Linked DNA regions of Homo sapiens: region 1 is linked to region 2. A link means that fine-mapping ties the variant in region 2 to the expression of a gene that starts in the linked region. Tissue or cell type: esophagus mucosa. Region 2 holds a variant in brackets; the other region holds the start of a gene. All regions are shown on one strand. Distances are between the middles of the regions.

The links. PIP is the estimated chance that this variant, and not a neighbour inherited with it, causes the effect.
Region 1: it holds the start of FOXP4, and the variant in region 2 is fine-mapped to the expression of FOXP4 in esophagus mucosa (GTEx, PIP above 0.99).

What each region holds. Positions count from the first base shown.
Region 1 is chr6:41,543,811-41,548,954 of GRCh38, forward strand. FOXP4 (forkhead box P4) reads left to right here and starts at 2,571. Exons shown (of 17, transcript NM_001012426.2): 1 at 2,571-3,057. FOXP4-AS1 (FOXP4 antisense RNA 1) reads right to left here and starts at 4,811. Exons shown (of 2, transcript NR_126415.1): 1 at 4,568-4,811. RefSeq lists silencers at 581-875, 1,918-2,187, 2,518-3,197, 3,268-3,447, 3,738-3,887 and an enhancer at 2,258-2,367.
Region 2 is chr6:41,602,483-41,607,621 of GRCh38, forward strand. No RefSeq gene overlaps it. Among named protein-coding and RNA genes, the nearest start is that of MIR4641, 6.3 kb to the left of the region's middle. RefSeq lists an enhancer at 589-883. The variant C/T (reference allele first, on the strand shown) is at 2,302.

The DNA of each region.
Region 1 (5,144 bases), 59 kb before region 2:
CATGAGCCTTGGTTCCGGCCACCGCCAAAGCACCTGCACCTGCCCTGAGTCCTGTGAAGGAACAAGGACAGAAAGAGGACCCTCCTGCCTGCTCCCGGTCACTCCCACTTTGGAGCCAAGGGCTACTCTTTTCAACCTTCTTAACGAAGCTCTTGCACCAGGAAGAAGGGCTTTGGACTGGCTTCTTTGATTTCGGGGCATTTGTTCTGTATCTTTCTTTGGGGAGGCTTTGTCTTCCTCGCTAAAATGCCCTTTAGGTGAAGACAAGACAGGGTCTTTTGATGCCTTGAGCCCCCACTGTAGCTCACAGGGAGCTGGGAACTGAACTGGCCTGGAGATGAGGGGTAAACTGAACTGAAAGTGAAGCATTTCCCAGGGCAATCCCTCTGGGCAAGTGAGCCCATGTGTAAGGTACAAGGGCTGCTGCAGGAAGGGGATGGGAAAAACATTCAGTGAACCAGCCAGAAAAGGGCTGGAGAAGCCCCTCGGAGGTCACCTCATTCAATACCCCCCTACAGAAATTCTCTCTTTTGTCTCCAAAGCCCCTAGTTCTCACCCCACCCTCAGCCTTTGCTGCAAGAAGGATAGGAAGGAGAACTGAGGACATAGTCACTGGCCCAGCTGGTCTGACACAAGGACTTGCCACTCCAGGCTTGGCCTAGGGCTGTCCACACACCATGATTTCCACCAGAGCTGGGCCTCAACAGAAGGTAAATCAGATAGTACTACCAAGGGCTTTCTTTCTCCCAGAATATCCTTCCCCTCAGCTAACCCACAAGCAGGCAGTGTCGCTTCAGAGACCACCATGAGCTTCTTTCTTGTCCTCACTGAAGTGGCTCTAGTTGGAATCTGGCTCATCACTGACCAGCAGCTGTGTAAGCCTGGGCAAGTTACTTGATCTCTTTGTGCCTCAGTTTCCTCTTCTATAAAATGGAGATAATACAAATATCTCCCTCCTGGGGTTACTGTGAAGATTAAATGGCTGGTGGGTGGTACGACTCAGATGTTAGCTGTTATTTTATTCTTATGGCTATGGTTATCTCAGTTGCCACACTGGAAAGGACACTGAGATATCCACATAAATGGCACTTAGAGTCTTCCCTGCACAATTTCACACCTAGAAATCTAAAACGCTCCAGCAGGACCTAAGTATGCCTGTCCCACCTGCCCAAAAAGGCAAATACATAAAATGTGGACCTGTGCAGGTGTCACTAACATTGCAGAAAAGGGACAGAAGTGATGAAAAACAACCCAAGAGGGTGCCTCCTCTCTGAGGTCCCCTTTTCTTTCAAGGACCACTGGAACGGCCAAGAAATCCCCTCCCCCCAGGCAACTAAGCATCAATCCTTGCAGCTCCGACCCCACACCTCAGGCTTCCAGCTCCCACTCCACAGGGGCTCACATACTATGCCAGCCTCTTGTCCACCTGCCTGAGGATTTAGGGCCAGGAGAGGCTTCAAGAGCCACTGTCTTCTTGTCCTGATCCCACAACAGGATCCTCCCTTGGTCATGGGGACCCGGCATCACTGAGCTGGGTTGGGGTACTTCATGAGGACCCCTGAGGCCTCCTTCACTTCTCCCCACCCCCAACACATGCAGACAGATGGGAGATGTTTCCGGCGTGTGTGGGGCGGGGAGGGGGACGGGTATTGAGATTTCCACGGGACTCTGAGTGGTGCGTCTGCTAACAACACAGCCCTCCCCCTTGGGCCGTGGGCATTTCCTCACCCAGACCTCCCCCTCCCAACCCAAACACACCATCGCCGCCACCACCACAATCCCTCCAGTCCCCCTGGGCAAAAGCGATGTTCAGAGACGCGGGGTTTTGTTTACAATCTAATTTGTCCGGATAATTGCCTCAACTTTGCACTTCACTTTGCCCGCATGGCTCTGGCCTTGGGCCCCTTCTTCACTGGTTCGCAGAGCACTTTACGGGAAATTCCCTTTCCGCAGAGGGAGGCAGTGCGCGCCAGGGGGTGACCGTTCACAAAGCCCTGAAGGGGCCTCCCCACCTTCTACCCTCGGCTCAGGAAGCCCACCCCCAGCCCCCACGCAGTGGGGAGCAGGAGGGAGGCCAGACAGGGCCCGGGCCTGACACTGGCTCCGTCTCTGGGCCCCCGGCCACTCCCCGCGCCGAGCGCAGCCCGCCGGGAACCAGTGAACCGTGTGGGATCAGGACTTGGCCGTACCTTCAGACTCCAGGGGATGGCCGGGGTTTGCAAGCGCCCCATAGGATTAGTCCGAGGCCAGGGTGAATCCCTGGGGTCCCTCCACCTACCATCTTTTTCAGATCTGCCGCCTCACGTCTTCTCCCCACGTTCCCATTTTTCCTCCCCTAAAGTTTGGTGCACGTGGTTTTCTCTCGCTCTCAGCGGGCTGCCAGGCGGGGTGAAAGTTGCTGCACCTGCTTTAGGCGAATTATGGTAGCACTAGAAGTTGGTCTCCCCTCCCTCCGCCGCTTGCTCTCTCGCTCCCTCCTCCCTCGCTCTCCGCGCGCTCCCTCCTTCCCTCTCCACCCTCCTCCTCCCCCGCCCCCTCCCGCCCCGCCCGCGCGCCGCCCGCTCGCAGCCACTCGCAGCCCAGGCTCAGTCGCAGCCCCTCGGAGTCCGGAGCCCGCCGTCCCTGCGGACCGGACAGTGCGGCCGGCGGCCGGCGGCCGGGACGGAGCCCCCAGCCCGCGAGGAGGGCGCGGCGCAGGCGGCGGCGGCGCGGCGGGGAGGAGCCCGGGCCGGAACCAGGGCTGGGCCGGGGGCGGGGACGCCGGGGTCCGGGAGCCCGGGAGCCGGAGCGAGCTGACGAGCGTCGCGGAAGGACCGGGAAGGAAGAGCGGAGCCGGAGCGAGCCAAGCAGCCCACAAAGTGCCATGCCCCGGCGGGGTTGAGGCGCGCGGCGGTCGGCCCGGCGCGCTGGGAGGACGCCCGGGAGCTGCGCGACGCGGGGCGGCGCGGAAGGGCAGCCCCGGCGGGCGGCGGCGGGCCCGGGCTGCGACCGGAGCGAGCCCCATGCCCCGCGCGGGCTGACGGGCCGGAGCCCGCACGGAGCGGCCGGGCGGGACAGGTAGGTGGCGGGTCGGGCCCAGGGACGTGGGTGGGGGCTGGGCGGGCGACCAGACCAACTCCCTCGCTCGCGCACTCTCTCGCCCGCTCGCTGGCTCACTTTGTGTTTGCAAACTGCCCGCCCGAGACGCGCTGGGCGCCGGGCGCCAGGAGGAGCCGGGCCCGGGCCGGCGCACTTTGTTCCAGCCAGGGCCGGCCGTGGCGCACTGACCCCGCGCAGCCGCGACATTCCGCCCCTGGCCCGGGCCCCAGCGGGCCGGAGCTGCCTCGGGAACAGGTGGGGGCTGTGGCGCGGCGGGAGTGGGGGCAGCCGGAGGCCGGGGCGGGGAGGGGGGCGGCCGGAGAGGCCACCGAGGCCCGCCCTTCCCCAAGAATCTGGGCCCCGCCCCCTCCCCGCCGGGCCTCTGGGAATGGGGTGTACGGGGGCGCGACCCCCTCCCCGCCCCGAGTCAGACAAAGAATACTTCCCGGCCCAGACTTTCCAGAGCTGGGAAGGGAAGTGGCTCCCCCCAACTCTAGTCGGTACCGGACTCCCCAGGACGCGCCGGAGACAGATGAAAATGGGGGCAAGAGAGCGGGGGATCGCGGTCCTACCCGCCGTGTCGTCTCTGGTGAAGAGGGGACTTGTCTTGCTGAGGTCGCACCTCGGAAGTGCCAGGGCCAGTCAGCCCCTTTTCCATCGCTCGGTCAGCTCGGGGATAGAGCGGAAAACTTCTTGGGGACTTGAGAGCGTCTGGAAATGGCCCCTGTGATTTGTGCGCCGGAGGTGGAGGGTGGGGAAACGATCTGGCTGACACCTCTACTCACCCGCTGTGGAGAGAGCTCCCGCTTCACCACTTAAGGGGGGAAGAGAGGGCGGCCACGGGGGCCCGGAGGCCACCAGGGAAGGAGCCCGGAGTGACCGAGCAGGACCCCCCCCCGCCCCAACTGAGGAGTCTGGTATCTCCCCTGGACAACCCCAGCACCTCTCTGACCGGCGGCGCTTCAGCCTCGGGCTCCTCATCCACGCCAAACAAACTTCCTTGGGCTGCGTCAGAGCACAGCCAGTGGCGCTAGAATGCGACCTGGGGTCCCGGCCGCCCCCATAAAGGACCGGGTAATTTCGCGGAATGCGGATTTTGAGACAGGCCCAGACGGCGGCGGATTCCCTGTGTCCCCCAACTGGGGCGATCTCGTGAACACACCTGCGTCCCACCCCGATCCTAGGTTGGGGGGAAAGGGTATGGGAACCCTGAGCCCAGAGCGCGCCCCGCTCTTTCCTTTGCTCCCCGGCTTCCCTGGCCAGCCCCCTCCCGGCTGGTTTCCTCGCTCACTCGGCGCCTGGCGTTTCGGGCGTCTGGAGATCACCGCGTGTCTGGCACCCCAACGTCTAGTCTCCCCGCAGGTTGACCGCGGCGCCTGGAGCCGGGAATAGGGGTGGGGAGTCCGGAGAACCAAACCCGAGCCTGAAGTTGCCATTCGGGTGACTCCCGAGAAAGCCCGGGAGCATTTTGGCCAATGCGGGTTTTTACCTGAACTTCAGCATCTTCACCCCGGTTTCGGAGACCTGCCTAGATTCGTCCCAGCACGCACTGTTTCGGGTTCGGGATTGAGGGTTAGGGCAGCACACACAGCTTGAGGGGCAATTGTTAGGACTGGCCCGAGTGCCCGCAGAAAGAAAGAGCAGCGGGGTTGTCGTATGGCCTGTAGCTGCGGGAAGGTCTGTGCCGGTCCCACTGTCGAACCCAGAAGCTCACTTTCCACAGAAAACCAGGGCTGAAGGGCCCCCTGACCGCCATGCCCTGCGGGCACCGGGCATTTTGAGCTCTCCCCCACCCCCTCCCCCTGCTGCGAACCAGCCGGTAGGTGCAGGGGCCGAAGGCCAGGCCCAGTGGACCCAGCCGCCTGAAGGGGAGCCACGGCCTCAGAAAACCTCTGCCCGCCCCCGCGGAAAACCGCTGTGGGGAAGTCTGAAGGCCTTTTTTTTTTTTTTTTTTTTTCAACTTGAGAAACTTTTGCCTCGGGGTTTTGGGGCTCTGTTACCTGGTGGCTGGAGGGAGGATACTGGGGCTCTGCTCTTGGTACCTGGACAGCTTGTTGGCTCCCATG
Region 2 (5,139 bases):
AGCCCCCTTACTCTGCCCCCTTGAAGAAGTAGTCAGTTCTGTGGACCAGCCCCGGGGGCATTCTTCCTATGCCAGACTCTGGAGGGACAAGACTGCACCTAGCTTTATTCTCAGGACCGTCCTTCCCGCGGTCTAACTTCAGTTTCTCCTGCTTCAACTAGAGTCCTCTTTTTATTCCTCTCACAGGGATATAGTGAATGGTCAGTGCATTTGCAGGTGGGGTGATGATCTATTTTGGACACTGGTACAGGAGAGGGTCTTGCAATATAAGAAACAAGAGCTGTTATGAACCACCACCTTCTGGGTGCATTGGGCTTATAGACTCAGTAATTTATTTTCTTCCTGATCTGACATCCTACATGGGGCAGCCCTCCCACAATTATTACCTTATTCGAAGTATGAACCAACATGTCCACCCCACCCCCAACCCCCATCACGCTTTGCCTCAGGAAGCGCTGCATGCTGGGTATGTAGCTTCTCTCCTTTCTACTGTTAACTCACAGCCAGGGAGTAGGCTGTTAACTGCAGCTGGCAGCTTGTCCTGGTCTTAGCATTGCTGAGCCCTGTTGGGGAAGCTATCTTTGGAACCTGGGGAAAAAAAAAAGAGAAATACTCCAAGCCGGACGTTTTAGGGGTGGGATAAGTAGCGCTCTGCGCTCTGCATCCGACAGAAGTCCCCCTTCCCCTTGGCACTCAGCACTTCGCTCCCCCACCATGAACTCGCCACCTTGCCCAAGGCCTTCTTGCCGATGGTCAGCAGAGGGCGCTTTAAACAAAGCAGACCGGCTCCTCTGGACAAACTTGCCTGTTTCCGGGGCACAGAACAACTTCCCTGAGAATGCCAGCCGCCGTACAGCGGAGGGCTCAGTACCTGTTTTTAATAGTAATAATTATTAACAGTTAATGAGCCCTCATTATGTGCCAGGCACTATCCTAGAAGCTTTATATTTCATTTCATCCCCAAAACGACTCTGAGTTAGGTATTATTATCCCCATTTTATAGATGAAGAGACTGAGGCAGAGTCAAAGAGATGAGCAGATAAAGCATTAAGAATAAAGAATCTTTGCAGATGAGCAATCCGGGTTCTGGGTTTAAAAAAAAAAATGAACCTGTGGCTGACGGTGGGGAAAGAGAAGAGGGAGACCCTGTGGTTTGCCCCTGCTTTCTAGTGACACGATTTACTTTGGTGATCGCTGCTTCCCTCCTTCTCTGGAGGCTCCGAGTGGGGAAATGAGGCTCCGAGCGCCTCGAAGCTGGGAATTAGGCCCTGGCTTCTGAGTTCCCCAGCTGCCATTCTACTCTAAGCAGAATAAGGTAAATTGATCTTGAAACAGTCACTGAAGGACAGAGTGAGGCAGAGAAGTCTGAATTACCCTATAAAAATAATCAGACAGGGGCCCTTCTGATGGGACGGTGAGGCAGAGCAGTGCAGACAAAGATCCCCCTGTCTGTGGTGGGGACTTTAAAATGACACCCCTCATGCACAGCACACACCTTCACACACACATGCACATGCTACTACCCGATATACTGACACCAGAGGTCCCTTCCATCTGCAGTCATCTCTAGGTGACCAGAAATGGACCCCCAGGGTGGGACATCCCACCACACAGAACCCCCGACACCTCACTGGCCTGCAGTCTGCATCCGCCTCAGGATCAAAAGTTTAGAAAAACAGCCCCTCCTGAGAAGGCAGTCATGGTGGCAGCCCAGGCTGAAAGGCCCTCTGTCCTAGCCAGGAGGGGCCAGGGACAGGGCGTGGGGGCTGGCAACCTTCAGAAGACTGGCTGAATTAACAGGGACAGTGCAGTGGTGGGCTGGGTAACCAAGCTGGCACTCTGGGCTTCTGGCCCTGGCCCTCCCACGAGGGCCTCTCCTGCTCTGGGACCTGGAATGCAGGCCTGTCTATACAAGGCCACCATGCTTGGGCTCCAGGAGTGGGCCAGGTACAGGGGGTAAGGGTGGGTGGTCACCAGAGAAACACAGGGTGGGTCTCTGTTCTCTGAGAGCTGCTTCTCTGGCTGGGAAACAGATGGAGATCAGCCGACTGTCATGTGCTGTGAGGGAGTAAACACAAGGGTTCAAATCCTGGCTCTGCTGCTTGCCAGGTCTGTGGCATTGGGAAAGCCACTGGACCTCTCTGGGCCTCAGAGTTCTCATTTGTAGAATGGGGTGGAGTAATAATCTCTACATCACTGGCTTGTTGAGAAGATTAATGATATATAAAAAGATGTCTGGGCCGGGTGCGGTGGCTCACGCCTGTAATCCCAGCACTTTGGGAGGCCAAGGTGGGTGGATCA[C/T]GAGGTCAGGAGATCAAGACCATCCTGGCTAACAAGGTGAAACCCCGTCTCTACTAAAAATACAAAAAATTAGCCGGGCGCGGTGGCGGGCGCCTGTAGTCCCAGCTACTCGGGAGGCTGAGGCAGGAGAATGGCGTGAACCCGGGAAGCGGAGCTTGCAGTGAGCCGAGATTGCACCACTGCAGTCCGCAGTCCGGCCTGGGCGACAGAGCGAGACTCCGTCTCAAAAAAAAAAAAAAAAAAAAAAAGATGTCTGGTGCATAATATGCCCTCAATACATAATGGCTGTTAATAAAATGGAGTCCTGGGTGCCAGTCACCATAGGGGCTCAGAGGGACCTAAGTGCTTACTGGGGACCAGTGTATCCTGGAAGACTCCCTGGAAGAGTTCTGGAGCTGAGGAGGGGAAATTTGGGTAGAAAGAGGGGAGAAGAAAGAACATTCTAGGCCTGCAGGGGAACTGAGATGGAGCTTAGGGAAGGTTAATGTGGAAGAAAACAAAAAATTAAATGGAGGCAGCAGAGACAGAGGCCGAGGCAAGGAGGTCAACAGGGTCTTAGAAACCTGGCCCCGGGGCCGGGCGCGGTGGCTCACGCCTGTAATCCCAGCACTTTGGGAGGCCAAGGTGGGCGGATCACAAGGTCAGGAGATGGAGACCATCCTGGCTAACACGGTGAAACCCCGTCTCTACTAAAAATACAAAAAATTAGCCAGGCGTGGTCGCGGGCGCCTGTAGTCCCAGCTACTCAGGAGGCTGAGGCAGGAGAATGGCGTGAACCCGGGAGGTGGAGCTTGCAGTGAGCCGAGATTGTGCCACTGCAGTCCAGCCTGGGCAACAGAGCGAGACTCCGTCTAAAAAAAAAAAAAAAGAAACCTGGCCCCATCCCTGTCATTACCAACTGACTGGCCCTGGGCTTTGGGCAGGTGAATTGGGGTGTGGTTTCCTATAAAGTGGCCCTAGGACTCCCTGACTACTCAGAAGGTTAAGGGGAGAATTACCCGACTTGGTGGCATGAGCATGCCCACACCTGCTAATGCCAGTAAGTGGCGATGCTGCTGCTGCTGTTGATGCCACTGGGGAGTTTCCATCCACAGAGGGACTGTCTTGGACTTAAATAGGTACTTCACAGGTGTGGCAGGGGCCAGTGAGTGGTGCTGTGACCTTCAGAGGTGTGCAGAGCAGAGCCATAGAGATTCGACTTAGCAGGAAAGTTTGCAAGGCAGGGGATAGCTGAAAACACACAGGTGGACTGGGCAGGACACCTGGGGACAGCCAGGAAGGCTGGACAGGGAGACTGGGTTACTGGGAGGTGATAGTGGAAAGGCAGGCACCAGACAGGGGAGGACCCCGGAGGTCAAGCTGGGGACCAAGCTGGGGCTTGGGGGAGCTGTGCCCACAGGGGCATTTAGAGCAGAGAAGTAACAGGATTGACCTGAGATTGGGGGAATAGGCCAAGTGGAACCATATAGGGTGACAGGAGCCAATTAGGTGACTCTTGGGATTGTCCAGGTGACAGATGATGAAGGCCTAAGTAGGGTGGGGGGTTGCTTTGGAAAATAGTGTCAGGAGGCTTTTTGCAAAACAACAGAGTAAAAGAGGGGCTGTTGGCTACCTGAGAGAAAGGAGGTCAGGAACGAGCTCAACGGGGTCTTCCTAAATGTCTATTCGCAGGAGAGAGGGAAATCAAGTGTGGCACATTTGACAATGGAATATTATATTGCAAAGAGAATAAATAAAGAGCTCCCATCAGCAGGGTAAATTTGAGCAAAAAAAAAAAAAGTAAGTTGAAGAAAGATACATAGAGACTGTTCTCATTTGTATAATGTTTGAAAACATGTAATAATTCTATATATCATGTATGGGCACACATGTAGCAAACATTTAAATAATTTGTAGGAATGATAAATAACAAATTCAAGATGGTGGCTGTCACTCTGGGGAGGGGGATGCAATGGGGAGGAGTATTCAAGGGGCTTCAAGTCTGTTGGTAATGGTTAGTATTGGAGCTGGGTGGTGGGAACACAGAGGTTAAATCTGTTCTTCTCTGTACCTTTTTGTGGCTGGAATATTTCACTTAAAAATAAAAAAAGAATGGGCCAGGTGCAGTGGCTCATGCCTGTAATCCCAGCACTTTGGGAGGCTGAGGTGGGCAGATCACCTGAGGTCGGAGTTCGGGACCACCCAGACTAACATGGTGAAACCCGTCTCTACTAAAAATGCAAAAATTTGCCGGGCGCACCTGTAATCCCAGCTACTCGGGAGGTTGAGGTGGGAGAATTGCTTGAACCCGGGAGGCGGAGGCTCCAGTGAGCTGAGATCGTGCCACTGCACTCCAGCCTGGGCAAGAGAGTGAGACCCTGCCTTTAAATAAATAAATATATAAATAAATAAATAAATAAATAAATAAATAAATAAATAAAGGGGGGATTTAATAAATAAATCAATAAATAAAAGAAGAATGGCCCCAAGATTTGGGGTCCGTGCCACAGGAATAATTCTTATCCTCTCAGCCCCTGTGGGCTCAAGACAAGCAAGGGAAAAGATAAAATGTTAAAGGGGTTTGCAGGGGTGGCAGGACATCAAGTGGCTCCCATGCCCAGGACTGGACAGATGGAAATTGGCAAAGCACATCTGGGCCCACATCTGGTGGTGGGGCAGGAGATGTGGCCACAAAGGAAGGTGGGGATAGTCCGGGGATGGCAAGGAAGGAGAACCACAAGAGAGGGCAGTCCTGAGGGTTCACTGTGACAGAGGCCAAAGGGTTCCCAAAATTCGAGGCCTGGGAGCTGCTTCCATGGACTTGGCAACTGGAAGCTTCTGATGCCCTAGGACAGAATA